Regions from separate parts of the Homo sapiens genome. Here region 2 is linked to region 1. Evidence: fine-mapped expression QTL. Tissue or cell type: whole blood. Region 1 holds a variant in brackets; the other region holds the start of a gene. All regions are shown on one strand. Distances are between the middles of the regions.

Region 1 (8,104 bases):
CCCAGAAGTGAGATTTGTAAGGTCCAGTGGTTTGGGGCTTTAAGAGCTCCCATAGCTGCCATGTTGCAGCATAGCCTAATGGTTACCAGCGTAAAGCTCTGAAACCAGAAACCCAGCAGAAACCAAACTGGCTGAAGGAAAAGGGGGGCTTCTGTACAGCGCTTGGGAGAGGCACAGGGGAGCTCACAGACCAGAAGGGGCACCTACAGAGAGCAGGACCTCAGGAATGGAACTAGAACACTGCGCTGCCAGCACTTCCCCTCTTCTCTTTGTCTCATTTCTGTTTGCCTGCATTTGGCCTCCCTTTTGTTGTAGAGGAGTCTTTGTCAGGTAGTGAGGAAGTTGGGGGTTTACCCTCCTTCACAACTTCCTAATGCTGCCTGCTCCTCTGCAGGATACTCACCCTCCCCATAGTCCACCAGGGCACTGCAGGGCCCTTTGCTTTTCCTGGCTGTGGTCTGTTGTGGGGAGCTCTGGATCTGACCTGCAATACAGGAGGTTGTGCTGAAGCTGAATGTGTGTTTTGGAGTGAGGTGTGGGGGACACTTGTGTCTCACTCCTTTCTGACCCCTTACATACACCCATCCCTTACCTGGTTGCCTTGCGTTGATATCTCCCGTTTCCGCTTCCGGGAGCCAGGGTGAAATGGGAGAACTGCAAAAGCCTAAGAAAGGATGGCCGGGTGCGGTGGCTCACACCTGTAATCCCAGAACTTTGGGAGGCTGAGGCGAATGGACCACCTGAGGTCAGGAGTTCGAGACCAGCCTGGCCAACATGGTGAAACCCCATCTCTACTAAAAATACAAAAAATTAGCCGGATGTGGTGGCGGGCACCTATAATCTCAGCTACTCAGGAGGCTGAGACAGGGGAATTGCTTGAACCTGGGAGGTGGAGATTGCAGTGAGCCAAGATTGTGCCACTGCACTCCAGGCTGAGTGACAGTGTGAGACTCTGTCTAAAAAAAAAAAAAAAAAAAAAAAAGAGGCCATGTTGGTGACCCCCAGTGTTGGCTTCATCCCCAGCCAGGACTGGCCACATAAGACACGGAGTAGCAAAAGCACTTGCTCCCCTCAGTTTGGACTTAGGGCAGCAAGTGAGCCACTGACCACAAACTGTTCTTTTTTGTGGTAGTTTTGATCTATTATTTTTTCATCTCCAAAGTTTAAAGTTTATATATACAAAATCTATTATATTTTATTTTTTAAAAATATAAGATGGAAATAAAAAAGAGCAAAAGAGAAAAGAAAACAACAAAAAATAAAAACAAAGTAAGAAAACAAAAAAAACCCAAATATATGTATATATAAAATATATATATAAAATAGAGACGGGGTCTCACTATGTTAGTCTAGGTTGATCTTGAACTCTTGACCTCAAGCAATCCTCCCTCCTTGGCCTCCCAGTGTTAGGATTACAGGCATGAGCCACCGCACCCAGCCTGTTACCTATTTTAAATATAGGTAAGACCATTTTATTCTCTTTTAATGACCTTGCTGACTCTAACGTCCCATTTCCTTGGTGCTGTGGCCACTGCCTTGGTTTCTAAGGCAGTCACATCTGATGCCTGTGGAGTTCCTCTGAACTGAAGTTGAGGAGAGGAGAGGGGAAGCCCTTCGTTCCCATCCAGCCACCCTAAAGGACACCCCAGCCTTGCACTGCCATCCTGCCATGGGACATGCTCAGTCCCTGCTGGCACTTGTCTCCTTGGGCACCCACTATCCTTTTGCTGTCTCGGAGCAGACACGTCCACAAAGCTGCCAGGACTGCCCACCTTCACCCCTCTACTCCCATCCTCTCATCCACCAGTCAGGTTCTGCTGTTTGTACCCTTCCTCCCTCTTCACTCCCCTCTGTCCTGCCTGATGGCCCTCTCCAGCTGTCTCAGACAAAATGGATACTGCTTCACTTCTGTCTACTTCTGCTTCTTCACTATCAGGGCCTCAGGGCCTCCCTCTAAACAGCAGGCCAGTCTCTCCTATCTCTAAACAGCAGGCCAGTCTCTCCTAAGAACTGAGATGACCTAGGAAATGAGAGAGAAGCCTGTGCTGCTCCCAGATAAACAGATGGCAAGTGCCTTGGCCCTCAATCCTCCCTGTCCTAGGAGCCTCTCCAAAGAGGCGCATTTTTGAGTGCATTTTTGCATTCTTTTTGTTATTGCATAAATAATCCATGTTTATTTTAGAAAAATTAGAAATGAGATCAAATGGAAGGCTGGGTGCAGTGGCTCATTCCTGTAATCCCAGCACTTTGGGAGAACAAGGCAGGCGATCATTTGAAAACAGGAGTTCCAAACCAGCCTAGCCAACGTGGCAAAACCCTGTCTACTAAAAATACAAAAATTAGCCGGGCATCATGGCCTGCGCTTGTACTCCCAGCTACTCTGGTGGCGGATGCACAAGAATCGCTTGAACCCAGGAAGCGGTGGTTACAGTGAGCTGAGATCGTGCCACTGCACTTCAGCCTGGGCGACAGAGTGACACTCTGCCTCGAAAAAACAAAAAAGAAAGAGAACAAATGGAAAAACATTGTTTTCAATTCCACCACACAAAGATTTAGAACAAATGTGACCCTTTTGGAGAATAACTCTCTTCACTTCTTTTTCCCATGCAATAAGCACATTAAAACTTGATTTTGGCCGGGCGCAGTGGCTCATGCCTGTAATTCCAACACTTTGGAAGGCTGAGACAGGAGGATCACTTGAGCTCAGGAGTTTGAGACCATCCTGGGCAACATGGCAAAACCCTGTCTCTACCAAAAAATAAAAAAATAAAAATAAATAAATAATAAAAATAAAAAATTAGCCGAGTGTGGTGGTTCGTGCCTGTAGGCCCAACTACTCAGGAAGCTGAGGTGGCAGGATCACTTGAGCCTGGGAGGTGGAGGTTACAGTGAGCTAAGATCCTGCTACTGCACTCCAGCCTGAGCAAAAGGGTGAGACCCTGTCTCAAAAAAAAAAAGAAAAAGAAAAGAAAGAAAAAAAAGCAAACTATCGCAAGAACAAAAAACCAAACACCGCATGTTCTCACTCATAGGTGGCAATTGAACAATGAGAACACTTGGACACAGGAAGGGGAACATCACACACCAGGGCTTGTTGTGGGGTAGGGGGAGGGGGGAGGGATAGCATTAGGAGATATACCTAATGTAAATGATGACTTAATGGGTGCAGCACACCAACATGGCACATGTATACATATGTAACAAACCTGTACGTTGTGCACAAGTACCCTAGAACTTAAAGTATAATTAAAAAAAAAAGAAAGATAAGAAAAACTTTTTTTTTTTTTTGAGACGGAGTCTAGCTTTGTCACCCAGGCTGGAGTACAGTGGTGCAATCTCAGCACACTGCAACCTCTGCCTCCCAGGTTCAAGTAATTCTCCTGCCCCAGCCTCCTGAGGAGCTGGGACTACAGGTGTGCACCACCACACCCAGCTAATTTTTGTATTTTTAGTAGAGACGGGGTTTCACCGTGTTGGCCAAGCTGGTCTCGAACCCCTGACCTCAGGTGATCCACCCACCTTGGCCTCCCAAAGTGCTGGGATTACAAGCGTGAGCCACCATACCTGGCCAAAACCTTGATTTTTTTTTTTTTTTTTTTTTTGAGACAGAGTCTCGCTCTGTCGCCCCAGGCTGGAGTGCAGTGGCGGGATCTCAGCTCACTGCAAGCTCCGCCTCCCGGGTTCACACCATCCTCCTGCCTCAGCCTCCCGAGTAGCTGGGACTACAGGTGCCCACCACCACGCCTGGCTAATTTTTTTTGTTGTTTTGTTTTTTTTTTTTTTTAGTAGAGACAGAGTTTCACCATGTTAGCCAGGATGGTCTCCATCTCCTGACCTCGTGATCCACCCACCTCGGCCTCCCAAAGTGCTGGGATTACAGGCGTGAGCCATCGTGCCCAGCCAAAACCTTGGTTTTTAAAATAAGTATTTACTCATGCTGCATGGAAACAGGTGATATGCAAAAACCAAAATAATTTTGTTTTAGGATGGTGGGATTATGGGTGGTTTGCAATACATTAAAAATTATCTTTAATGTTATTTATTTATTTATTTATTTATTTATTTTTTGAGACAAGTTCTTGCTGTGTCACCCAGGCTAAAGTGTAGTGGCATCATCACAGCTCACTGCAGCCTCAACTTCCCAGG[C/T]TCAAACACTCCTCCCACTTCTGCCTGCCAAGTAGCTGGAACTACAACCACTACTCCTGGCTAATTTTTTGTATTTTTTAAAGTATAGATGATGGGGATGGTCTCACTATGTTGTACAGTTTGGTTTTGAACTCGCAGGCTCAAGCAATCTGCCTGCCTTGGCCTCCCAAAGCGCTGGCATTACAGGCTTGAGCCACTGCACCTGGCCCTTTATTTCATCTTTTAAGTGAAAAAAAATTGTAATTACATCCTACTTCTAATGGGATTTGGCTTACTGTCTGTATTAATTTTCTATTGCTGCTGTATTAATTCATCACAAATTTAGCTGCTTAAAATGAAACAACTTTATCTCACATTTTGTAGATTTAAAGTCTGAGTTTGAGGCCATGCTGGGCAATGTAGGGAGACCCCTGTCTTTACAAAAATTGTAAAAATTAGCCAGTATGGTGGTATGAGCCTGTAGTCCCAGCTACTTGGGGAGAGGGAGGTGGGAGGATCACTTGAGCCTGGGAGATAGAGGCTGCAGTGAGCTATGATCGTGCTTTACTCCAGTCTGGGTGGCAGTGAGACCCTGTCTTTAAAACAAAACAAAACAAAACAAAACAAAACAAGACAAAAAAACAGTCTGAGTAGCCTCAGCTGGTTTCTCTGCTCCAGGTCTCATAAAGACAAATCCCCATGTCAGCTGATAATCTGGGCTCTTATCTGGAGGCTCTGGGGGAGGATCCACCTTCAGACTCATTCAAGTGTTGGCAGAATTCGACTTCCATGTGGGTGTAGATCTGAGGTCCCCTTTCCTTGCTGGCTATCAGCTGGGAGTCAGCCCACCTTTTAGAGGCCACTCACATTCTCTAGCTCATGGCTTCCCTCATCTTCAGACCAGCAATGGCAGGGCAAGTCCTTCTCATGCTTCAGATCTCTTTGACCTCTCCCTTCTACCTCATCTCTCCTGCCTCCAGCCAGAGAAAGTTCTCTGCTTTGAAGGGCTCATGTGATTAGATTGGGCACACTCAGATAATCCACGATAATCTCCCTATTTTAAGGTTTGTAACCTTAATTACATCTGCAGAGTCCTTTTTGCTATGTAACATAACAGTCACAGGTTGCAAGGATTAGGGCCCAGGTGTCTTTGGGGAGAGCGTTCTGTCTACCACACTGTCTCCCTATCCTAATGAGCACGCCTTACATTTTGAAATGAAGCCAATCTCCTACATTTTTTTTTTTTTTTTAGCTCACACTCAGCCTGGTGTGAGCAGGCCCATCTTTGTCACTGATTGCATGTGACTGCCTGGGAATCCACAGATCTTTTAGAGCCACAGATACATCACTGTGTAACTGGTAGAGTTCTTCAGGTGGATATTGATATCCTTCTGGTACACAAAGCAACCATATGCCCTGGTATTTACAATACCCCAACTGGAAAATCTTGGCCCTCTTTAGACATTTTTTAGCTCTATTTTTCTTCTGTTATGATTTTAATTTTTTTTTTGAGACAGAGTCTGGCTCTGTCACCCAGGCTGGAGTGCAGTGGCACAATCTCGGCTCACTGCAACCTCCACCTCCCAGGTTCAAGTGATTCTCTACCTCAGCCTCCTGAGTAGCTAGGATCACAGGTGTGCACCACCATGCCCAGCTAATTTTTGTATTTTTAGTAGAGATGGGGTTTCACCATGTTGGCCAGGCTGGTCTAGAACTCCTTGGCCTAGAGCGATCTACCCGCCTCAGCCTCCCAAAGTGCTGGGATTACAGGCATGAGCCACCACACCCAGCCTATTTTTCTCTTATTATTTAGTTAGTATTAATTAGCTTTGCAGGTAAGAAATAGAGAGTCCTTTATCCCGAAGTACAGCCATGCCTCACTTAACAATGGGGATATTGGCCTGGTGCGGTGGTTCATGCCTGTAATCCCAGCATTTTGGGAGGCCAAAGTAGATGGATCATGAGGTCGGGAGTTGGAGACCAGCCTGGCCAAGATGGTGAAACCCTGCCTCTACTAAAAAATACAAAAATTAGCTGAGCGCGGTGGCGGGTACCTGTAATCCCAGCTACTTGGGAGGCTGAGGCAGGAGAATCGATTGAGTCTGGGAGGCGGAGTCTGCAGTGAGCTGAGATCACACCACTGCACTCTAGCCTGGGTGACAGAGCAAGACTCCAACTCAAAAAAAAAAAAAAAAAAAAACGATGGGGATGTGTTCTAAGAAATGCATTGTTAGGCGATTTCATTGCTGTGGAAACATCATGGAGCGCACTCACATAAACCTACACGGTGGAGTTTACTACACACCTAGACTATGTGGTGTAGCCTATTGCTCCTAGGCTACAAACCTGTGCAGCATATTACTGTACTGAATACTGTAGGCAATCGTAACACAATGGTAAGTATTTGTGTATCTAAACATACCTAAACATAGAGAAGATATAGTAGAAATATAGTGTAAAATATTTTAAAATGGCACAACATCTATAGGGCACTTGCCATGAATGGAGCTTGGAGGAGTGGAGGTTGCTTTGGGTGAGTCAGTGAGTGAGTAATGAGTGAATGTGAAGGCTTAGGACATTACTGTACACTACTGTAGACTTTATCAACACTGTATACTTAGCCTACACTAAATTTGTAAAAATAAATTTTTCTTTCTTTAATAATTGACCTTAGCTTACTGTAACTTTTTTATAAACGTTAAATTAAAAAGAAACTTTTTGACTCTTTTTTTTTTTTGGAAACGGAGTCTCACTCTGTCACCAGGCTGGAGTGCAATGGTGCGATCTCAGCTCACTGCAACCTCTGCCTCCCAGGTTCAAGTGATTCTCCTGCCTCAGCCTCCCGAGTAGCTGGGATTACAGGCATGCACCACCATGCCCGGCTAATTTTATATTTTTAGTAGAGAAAGGGTTTCACCATGTTGGTCAGGCTGGTCTTGAACTCGCGACCTCAGGTGATCCGCCCACCTCAGCCTCCCAAAGTGCTGGGATTACAGGCATGAGCCACCACACCTGGCCAACTCTTTTGTAATAACAATTAAAACAGAAACATATTGTACAGATTTATACAATATTTTTCTTTTTATCCTTATTCTTTTATTTTTTTGGAGGGGAACAGAGTCCTGCTCTGTTGCCCAGGCTGGAGTCCAGTGGTGTGATCTCGGCTCACTGCAACTTCTGCCTCTCGGATCCAAGTGATTCTCCTGTCTCAGCTTCCCGAGTAGCTGGGACTATAGGCATGCGCCACCATGCCCAGGTAATTTTTTTGTATTTTAGTAGAGTTGGGGTTTCACCATGTTGCCCTGGCTGGTCTCAAACTCCTGAGTTCAGCCAATTTGCCACCTCGGCCTCCCAAAGTGCTAGGATTACAGGCATGAGCCACCGCGCCTGGCCTCTTTTTATCCTTATTCTATAAACTTTTTCTATTAAAAAGTTTATTTTTTTTCTAATTTTTAAGTTTTTTGTTAAAAAATAAAACACAAACACACACAGTAGCCTAGGCCTACACAGGGTCAGGATCAGCAATATCACTGTCTTCCACCTCCACATCTTGTCCCAGTAGAAGGTCTTCAGGGGCAATAACATATACGGAGCTGTCATCTCTTATGATAACAATGCCTTCTTCTGGATTCCTCCTGAAGGAACCGCCTGAGCCTGTTTTACAGTTAACTTTTTTTTTTTAATAAGTAGAACGAGTACTCTAAAATAATAAAAAGTATAGTAAATACATAACAGTAACAGTCACTTATCAAGTATTATATACTATATATAATTACATGTGCTGTGCTTTATTTTATTTATTTTTTGAGATGGAGTCTCACTCTGTTACCCAGACTGGAGTGCAGTGGTGTGATATCAGCTCACTGCAACCTCCGTCTCCAGGGTTCAAGTGATTCTTCTCCTGTCTCATCCTCCTGAGTAACTGGGACTACAGGCACCCGCCACCACGCCTGACTAGTTTCTGTTTTTTTAGTAGAGA
Region 2 (8,104 bases), 120 kb before region 1:
TTTCAAATTGTCCCTTTTTCATAGATAGAATTCTTCTCATATCTTCAAGGGCATTGTGATTTCTTTGAAGATTTTTCTGCTTTTTGCCTTGTCTCTGTTGCCTGTGAGCAATTTTTCTCTATTTTGGGCTTTGCCTTTCATGTCACAGGCTTTGCCCAAGTGTTTGGTGATCCTTCAGTATTTAGAAATGAGACACTAAAACATCAATTGAAAGTTCTGTGTGTGGTGGGTAGTAAACTGATTGGCCTCAATGGCAGGTGATCAAATAGGGAGTCAGCTGTTTTGTTATGGGGCCTCTGAATGTCATTAGCTGTAGATAATGGTAATTAATGGCAGTAAACTTACAGTAAAGTTGCAAAACTCCCATACATGTCTTACCCAGACACTAATTGTTAACACTTTGCTGCATTTGCTTTCTAATTCAATATCTCTGTGTGTGTGTGTATATATATACACACACATATATACACACACATATACACACACACATATACACACACACATATATATACATACACACATATATACACACACACACATATAGTTCCTATATATGTGTACACACTGAAACATTTTAAATTTCAAACATGATTCCTTAAATATTAGGTTGGTGCAAAAGTAATTGTGGTTTTTGCCATTGAAAGTAATGGCAAAACCGCAAATACCTTTGCACCAACTGAATACTTCAGTGTACATTTTTTTAAGATCAGTGACGTTCACTTAAGAAACAATTCAGTTTTCAAACTCAAGATATTTAACATTAATATAATCTATTATTGAATCTACAGAACTCCTTCAAATTTCCCCAATTGTCCCAACAATATTCTTTATATAAATTTTTTTTCTGGGCCAGGATCCAATCTAGAACAGAGAGCACTGCAATGAGGTTTCGCAGCTCTTTTGTCCCCCTTAATCAGGAAGAGCTTCTCAGTCTTTCCATATCTTTCATTACATTGCCCTTTTTTCACACTGACATTTTTGAAAAGTGCAAGCCAGCTATTTTGTAGATTTTTTTTTTTTTTTTCGAGATGGAGTTTCGCTCTTGCTGCCCAGGCTGGAGTGTGCAATGGTGTGATCTCTGCTCACCACAACCTCTGCTTCCTGGGTTCAAGTGATTCTCCTGTCTCAGCCCCCCAAGTAGCTGGGATTACAGGCATGCACCACCATGCTGGGTTAATTTTGTATTTTTAGTAGAGACGGGGTTTCTCCATGTTGTTCAGGCTGGTCTCAAACTCCTGACCTCAGGTGATCCACCTGCCTCGGCCTCCCAAAGTGCTGGGATTACAGGCCTGAGCCACCGCACCCAGCCTGTAGAATGTTAATGTCGGGTTTGTGCAATGTTTCCTCATGATTCTATCCATATTGTGCATTTTTGGCAGAAACAATGTTGTTTCCTTTTTGTTGAATCAGGAATTGATCTACAATTTTTATCCAAGATTGCCTCCCACACATTATTTCATTCTACCTGATGTACCTGGAAACTCTCCAGATGTTTATGCAGAACAACAGCCTTGCTCTGATTTTTTACACAATATAATTTATTCTAAAGAGCACACTGTACCCATTCTTTTGCCCCGTAAACCTTTCAATGGCTTTTAGCCAAAAGCAGTGAAAATCTGTCTAAATTTTGCCCTGCTGAGTTGGACTCTGATGCATTTGTTTCTACACTGCCCATATGTAGACTGTACTTAGAAATATCTTGCACTATTTTAGATTTCGCAGCCCAACGCTGGATGGATGATTAACCAAGTAGGAGGGTATTAGGATACAAGAGGTTGCCATTTTAATGCAGTTTTTGAAAAACAACAGCTTTGGCCACACCTGGTGGCTCACGCCTGTAATCCCAGTACTTTGGGAGGCCAGGGCAGGCAAATCACTTGAGGTCAGGAGTTTGAGACCCACCTGGCCAACATGGTGAAACCCCATCTCTACTAAAAATACAAAAATTAGCTGGGTGTGGTGGCAAGTGCCTGTAATTCCAGCGGCTTGGGAGGCTGAGGCACGAGGATCACTTGAACCTGGGAGGCGGAGGTTGCAGTGAGCCGAGATTGTGCCATTGCGCTCCAACCTGGGCAACAGAGTGAGACTGTATCTCAAAAACAAACAAATAAATAAATAAAATAACAACTGTATTGAGACATAATTCACATACCCATAAAACTCACCCTTTAAGAGTGTAAAATTTCACGGGTTTTGGTATATTTACAGACTTGTAGTGATGTAACCATCACCAATATCTAATTTTAGAAGAGTTTTGATGCAGGGCAGCTGAGACCCCAGATTGGGTCTCAGCCCAGCAGGGTTTTTAGCTTTGTCCAGGAAAGAATTCAAGAGAGAGCCCGTGGTGTGAGACAGCAACTTTTATGGAGGTGGCGGTGTCCAGCAGCAGCAGAGGGGGCCTGCTCCTGCAGTGCAGGGCTGCCCCACAGGCAGTGTGCTGAGAGCAGCAGCTCTGGGCGATTCTGCAGTCATGTTGATACCCACTTTTAGTTACATGCAGATTAAGGGGCAGTTTATGCAGACATTTCTAGGAAAAGGGTAGTAACTTTTGGGTCCTCGGGTCATTGCCATGGAAGGGGGGTGATAACTCCAGGGGCGTGCCCTGGTAAACTGACATGGCACACTGATATGATGGGCATATCTTATGCTCATCTTCCACCCAGTCCCTGTTTTAGCTAGTCCTCAATTTGGTCCTCAATCTGGTGTCCAAGCCCCACCTCTGGCGTTAAGTCCTGACTCCTACCTGTTTCACCATCACTGCAGTTTTAAGAGTAACGAATTTGGGTCCCCTGGTGAAGTGGCCAGAGGCAGAGCTTCTGTGTGAACTATTTGGAGGGGAGGGGAAAGAACTCTCCCAGACTGCAGGTTCTGAAAGGAATACAGAGATGTCAGAGACTGCAGTTGCAAGAGAAAGCTTTTATAGGAGGGTGTAGAATTAAAGGACAAGAGGACTCTACATGTGGATGGAGGAGGGCACCCTGTCCGGCAGTACTGCAAGAGCAAAAGTTTGGAGGTGGGAGTGAGGTGAGTGCGTCTGCCGGCCAGAATTCTTGGGCCAGGGTGAGCAGAAAGGTTGGAGGCCAAGGGAAGGTGGGTGGTGGTGAACCTTATCCTGAAGTGTGCAAGGTGACAGTCAGAAGCTTAGAACTCCAGCCACGGGCCCTGCATGTGGCCTCCTAGCTGTAGTCTGTCCACCGAGATCGTGAGGATGCTGGTGGTTGAAAGAACTGCACCTCTGAGCAGGTGAAGAGAGAAGCTAAGGAGGGGTGATGGCAGAGGCGATGGGACAGGCTTTCTAACGATGAGGGGCTGGGGATCAACGCTCTCACGGAAGCTAAAAGAGCCCCAGCAACCACCCGCCTGGGCCCTGAGCTCTCTCCAAAGCGGGAGGGGATTCACTAAGAGGTTGCTCCCCTGGCATTGAACTCAGCATCCTATACTGGTCCTCACCATGAAGACCCCCAAGAGTGCTTCAGACCATTGCTTCTCACATTCTCTGTATAAAGACACTAATTTGTTTTTAGATTTCCAAGCATGTCACGGACCAATATGTTTGTTAAATATACTAAGAATGAATTGCTAGAAAGATGAAATTAAAAAGACATACACCGCCAGGTGCAGTGGCTCACGCCCATAATCTCACCACTTTGGGAGGCGGAGGTAGGTGCATCGCTTGAGCCCAGGAGTTCAAGATCAGCCTAGGCAACAAAGTGAGACCCCCGTATCTACAAAACTTAAAAAATTAGCCAGGTGTGGTGGCGCAGTCTGTAGTCCCAGCTATTCTGGAGGCCGAAGTGGGAGGATCGCTTGAGGCTGCAGTGAGCCGAGATCGCACCACTGCACTCCAGCCTGGGTGATAGAGTGAGACTCTGTCTCCAAAAAAAAAAAGGACATACATCATGCAAGTTTGGATTTTTGTTTTTAGATTCAACTGACGAAGTTACGGGATCAAACTGCTGTAGGAGCTGCCAAACGCTTCTCTCCATTTCTGGCCGCGGGGCCGCGGACCGCCCTTTAAGTAGCCCGTTTTATCCCTGGCAGAGGTGGAGCCTTAGGCAGGCCTAGAGACTTTCCCGGGTCCTCCAGGCCGGGGAACGCCCCGCTCGGAGGCCGGGCTTGGGCGGAGACTGCGCCGGGGCTGCTGAAAACTAGCCGAGGAGAGCCAGGGAGCCGGAGAGATCGCGCGCCTGCCGCCGCCGGAGCCTGCGAGCCGAGACCGTAAGCGCCCGGGGCCGGCCGGGCCCGCACTCCCCGGACGCAGACGCGGTTCGGGCTCCGCGCGGGCTCGGCCGCCGGGGTGGGCGGCGGGCCGGGGCGCCGAGGGGTCGGGGCTGCGGTCGGCCCGCAGGGGTGCAGAGGGACTTGTAGTTGGTCCGCCCCCAGCTCCTGCCCCGGCCAGGAGACTGCGCGTGCCGCCTACTGGGGGAAGGAGCCTGCAGGCGACCGCGGACTTCTCGCAGGGAATTCCGCGTCCCAGACTGTGGGCGGACGCCGCAGGGAGGGAGGCTCGCGACCCCGAGAGCGCACCGCGTCCCCTGGCCTGGGCGAGCTCTGCTTCCAGGGCCGTGGCTCGCTCGGCGGTGAAATGCACTTAATTTGTCACCCAAGTCGGAACACTGATTTTCATGCGCGTCCGTGTGAAGAGACCACCAAACAGGCTTTGTGTGAGCAACATGGCTGTTTATTTCACCTGGGTGCAGGCGGGCTGAGTCCGAAAAGAGTCAGCCAAGGGAGATAGGGGTGGGGCCGTTTTATAGGATTTGGGTAGGTAAAGGAAAATTACAGTCAAAGGGGGGTTCTCTGGCGGGCAGAGTGGGGGGGGTCACAAGGTGCTCAGTAGGGGAGCTTTTGAGCCAGGATGAGCCAGGAGAAGGAATTTCACAAGACAATGTCATCAGTTAAGGCAGGAACAGGTCATTTTCACTTTTGTGGTGGAATGACATCAGTTAAGGCAGGAACCGGCCATCTGGATGTGTAGGTGCAGGCCACAGGGGATATGATGGCTTAGCTTCGGCTCAGAGGCCTGACACTGATCACACCTTTTAGTTGAAATGCGCTTTCATCTCCATCTGCTGCCGCAGCCGCCGCCCGGCACCCCCTCGCTCTGGTCTCGGGATTGAAGGCCAGCCCTCTCCTCTTGTAGAACAGGAAACTTGCCCGGGAGTTCACCTTGTAGTTGAAGCCAGGGAATGTGGTCAACCTGAGCAAAAGCGCCGCGGAGACCGAGTGGCCGCCTGCCTCCCTCCCTGGCAGATGTCGGTTTTCTCTGAGCTTCTGGCTCCTTCCTTGCCCTGGCGGCTCCCGAGATCTTGGAGGTGGGGTGCCTAGCAATGTTGTAATCCTAATTTTGACTTTTTTTTCTTAAAGTTGAATGCCCCCTCCATAGCCCACCTCCCATTGTTTAAACTTCAGGTTCCGCAAAGCCTGGATCCGCCCCTACAGGCAACACTCGTTGTCCTGGAAGTTCTGTGAGGGCTCAGCTTGTGGCTGGAGGTGGGAGGTGAGGGGGACCCATGCACTTGGCAGGCCCGCTTCCAGGACAGCCCTTTGCTGGGATTGATGAGCTGTTGGTGGAAAATTGTTGAGGACCTTGGGGTTGGTGGCTGTTTCGGTACCACTGTGCAGCCTCCTCTGCATCCAGCATAATTTAAAATAAACATTTTCAGGAAGCCACACTTCTCCAGAAAGTAACATTGTTTTCTGGTGTAACGGTTGCCTCCTTCAGGGAGCTAGGTTTGGGGGATAATAGGGGGCCTTTCACTGGCCCCACTTGGTCTGACTTAGCAGCAAAAACTCTGCGAGTGCTCTCCAAGCAGTTTTTCTTTCCCAAATTTCCACACCTAGGAGGCGCTGAGGAGGCATGGGCGGTACTTAGGAACTGCTCACTGTGGAACTGAGGCACAGCGGGGAGCATGCCCTCGTGGGATTTGCAGTTCTAGGGGCAGAGGGATAATAAACAAAATACATTTGTAAACTATAAAGTATGTTAGAAGATGATGTGTAATATGGAGATAAATAAAACTTTAAAGAGGGGAGAGGAGTGCCAGGTGGAAAGGGAAGGCCTCACTGAAGGGTGGCACTGGCATAGACCTGAAGAGTTAGGGAGCAGCCAAGCTGCTGCCTGGGGTGCAGGTGCAAAGGCTGGGGGCAGGAGTGTGCCCAGCTTGAATGGCCTGATGTTTGTGTTTGCAGAGTGTGGGTCAAGCTGATGAGTGACCTACTGGATAAACTGAACTAGCTCAGTCTGTAAGTGAGGGGACTCCTGAGCTTTCTGCGGCCTTCTTCCCAATTCCAGGAAAGGAAGGACCTTCCACAGAAAATAACTACTCAGCAAGACAGCCAGGGTGAACCTCAGCACCATCTGTGACAAGCCACATGCTCTCTGCGTGATGCCTCCTGCCTCTCAGCTGTGCCTGAAGCACACTAGCTGGCATGGACTTACGCGGCTGGGAACATCTTCAGGAAGCCCTGAATGAGGGCTCTGTGGGCAGAGGGACCTTTGCAGAAAGGGCATCTTGACCACTGCAGGAGGTGGAGTGACTCTCCTGGGGTGTCCTGGTTCCTGCCTGATGTCTTAAGCATAACTGGCATTTTCAGGGAGCCCAGGTTCACCAATGCACAGTGCCCCTCCTGTCGACCTGATACCCAGGCTTGGTGATTGCTCACCTGGCACCTTGATTCCCGTTCTGGTATCTTGGCCCAGGCCCAGACATGTGAAAGCAGGGGCTACCGAGATTCATTTCTCAGTTCTTACGCCAAGAGGTTCAACCACATGGATCACAGCTGGGTGTACCAAATAAGGGAGGACCAAGCATGAGCTGGTCACCCCTGCTGAAGAAGTAGCTCGAAGCCCACCCACTCGGGGACAGAGTGGGCACAGATGGGATAGACAGATAGTGATTCGAGGGGTGCCTAGGATCTCATACTGAAAACCCACCTCTGCTAGGGCCATAAATCCCATCAACAGCAATTCATTCCTTTGAGAGGTAATACAGTGATGTGGGAAGAGGATTGGGCTGGAAAAAAGACTTGGCTCATGTCCCAGCTCTGCCATTAATGTGTCCCCTCTCTGGACCTCATCTGTAAAATGAGGTTAGGCTCAGCGATCTGCAGGCCTTCTTGCAGCTCTGCTATGTGATGATTCTGTGGCAAAGTCTGAAGGGATTTCAGGAAAGGAATGTGTAGGAGGGAAACAGTAAGTTTTGAAGGGACTCAGTGGGCCCTGTAGCCTCTGCTGGGTCCAGTGAAGACACTTCAACTAGAGTGAAGGCCCTGGCCACAGGGTAGGGGAGGCAAAATCTTAAGAGTTCAAGAGCCCTGAGTCAAGGCAGGAGGGTCACTGCCCAGCCCAGCTGGCCCCCTGGGCTGCCTGTGTGTGGTTCTTGACCCAGACCTAGTGGCTTAGGAGCAGAGTCTCCAAGGGGCTGTGGGATAAGGTGGGGATTGCAGGAGGGAGAAGGCACCCCAGCAGTTCCCCCGTTAGGGGACCAAAGCGTTGCCAAGGATCCAGCCACACCCCTCTCCTGAGGAGGGAGGAGCTGGTGGGCGCTCCAGGAAGAGCTTCCTCTCAACAAGGAGAAAACTGCGCAATCCAATCCTCCGTTATATAACTGAGCACACGATTGTGCAAACCAAGCTCACACTGAGCAGCCTCCCCTATTGTCAAGGTTTATTTACTTTCCCAGGGGAAGTCATAGTTCATCCTTTCTCAGCAGAAAGCAGCCATTTGACTGCCACAGCCTGACCTACGGCATTCCAGGAGATGGGTTCAGAGACCTGGTGTGGAGTCCTCATGCCCACCCGCCCTGCTGTCTGTGTCTTTCCGTCTGTTGCCTGGTGGGTGGGTGTGGTTTAGTGCATGGTCCAGCCCCCGCACAGCCACACCCATTAGGCTCTCCAAGGCCTAACTGAGCAAGCTTGCAGAAGAGGGGAAAGTGTTCTTTTCTCTGAGGAGTTAAAGAGACTTCTGGAAAATTCTCCAGCTACTCCACAAACTAGGATCACAGGCCTTGTTCTTAGGTCGGGAGCAGGAGTTTTTGCTGCCTTTAGCATTTGGGAAGTTTGATGAATAGAGACTGAATTTGAATGTCTTTTTGGTACTTAA

What was found. PIP is the estimated chance that this variant, and not a neighbour inherited with it, causes the effect.
Region 2: it holds the start of EPHX1, and the variant in region 1 is fine-mapped to the expression of EPHX1 in whole blood (INTERVAL, PIP above 0.99).

The regions. Positions count from the first base shown.
Region 1 is chr1:225,926,622-225,934,725 of GRCh38, forward strand. No RefSeq gene overlaps it. Among named protein-coding and RNA genes, the nearest start is that of PYCR2, 6.4 kb to the left of the region's middle. RefSeq lists a cis regulatory region at 1,617-2,269. The variant C/T (reference allele first, on the strand shown) is at 4,147.
Region 2 is chr1:225,805,952-225,814,055 of GRCh38, forward strand. It overlaps EPHX1 (epoxide hydrolase 1), which reads left to right and starts at 4,173. Exons shown (of 9, transcript NM_001136018.4): 1 at 4,173-4,218. RefSeq lists a silencer at 4,131-4,350.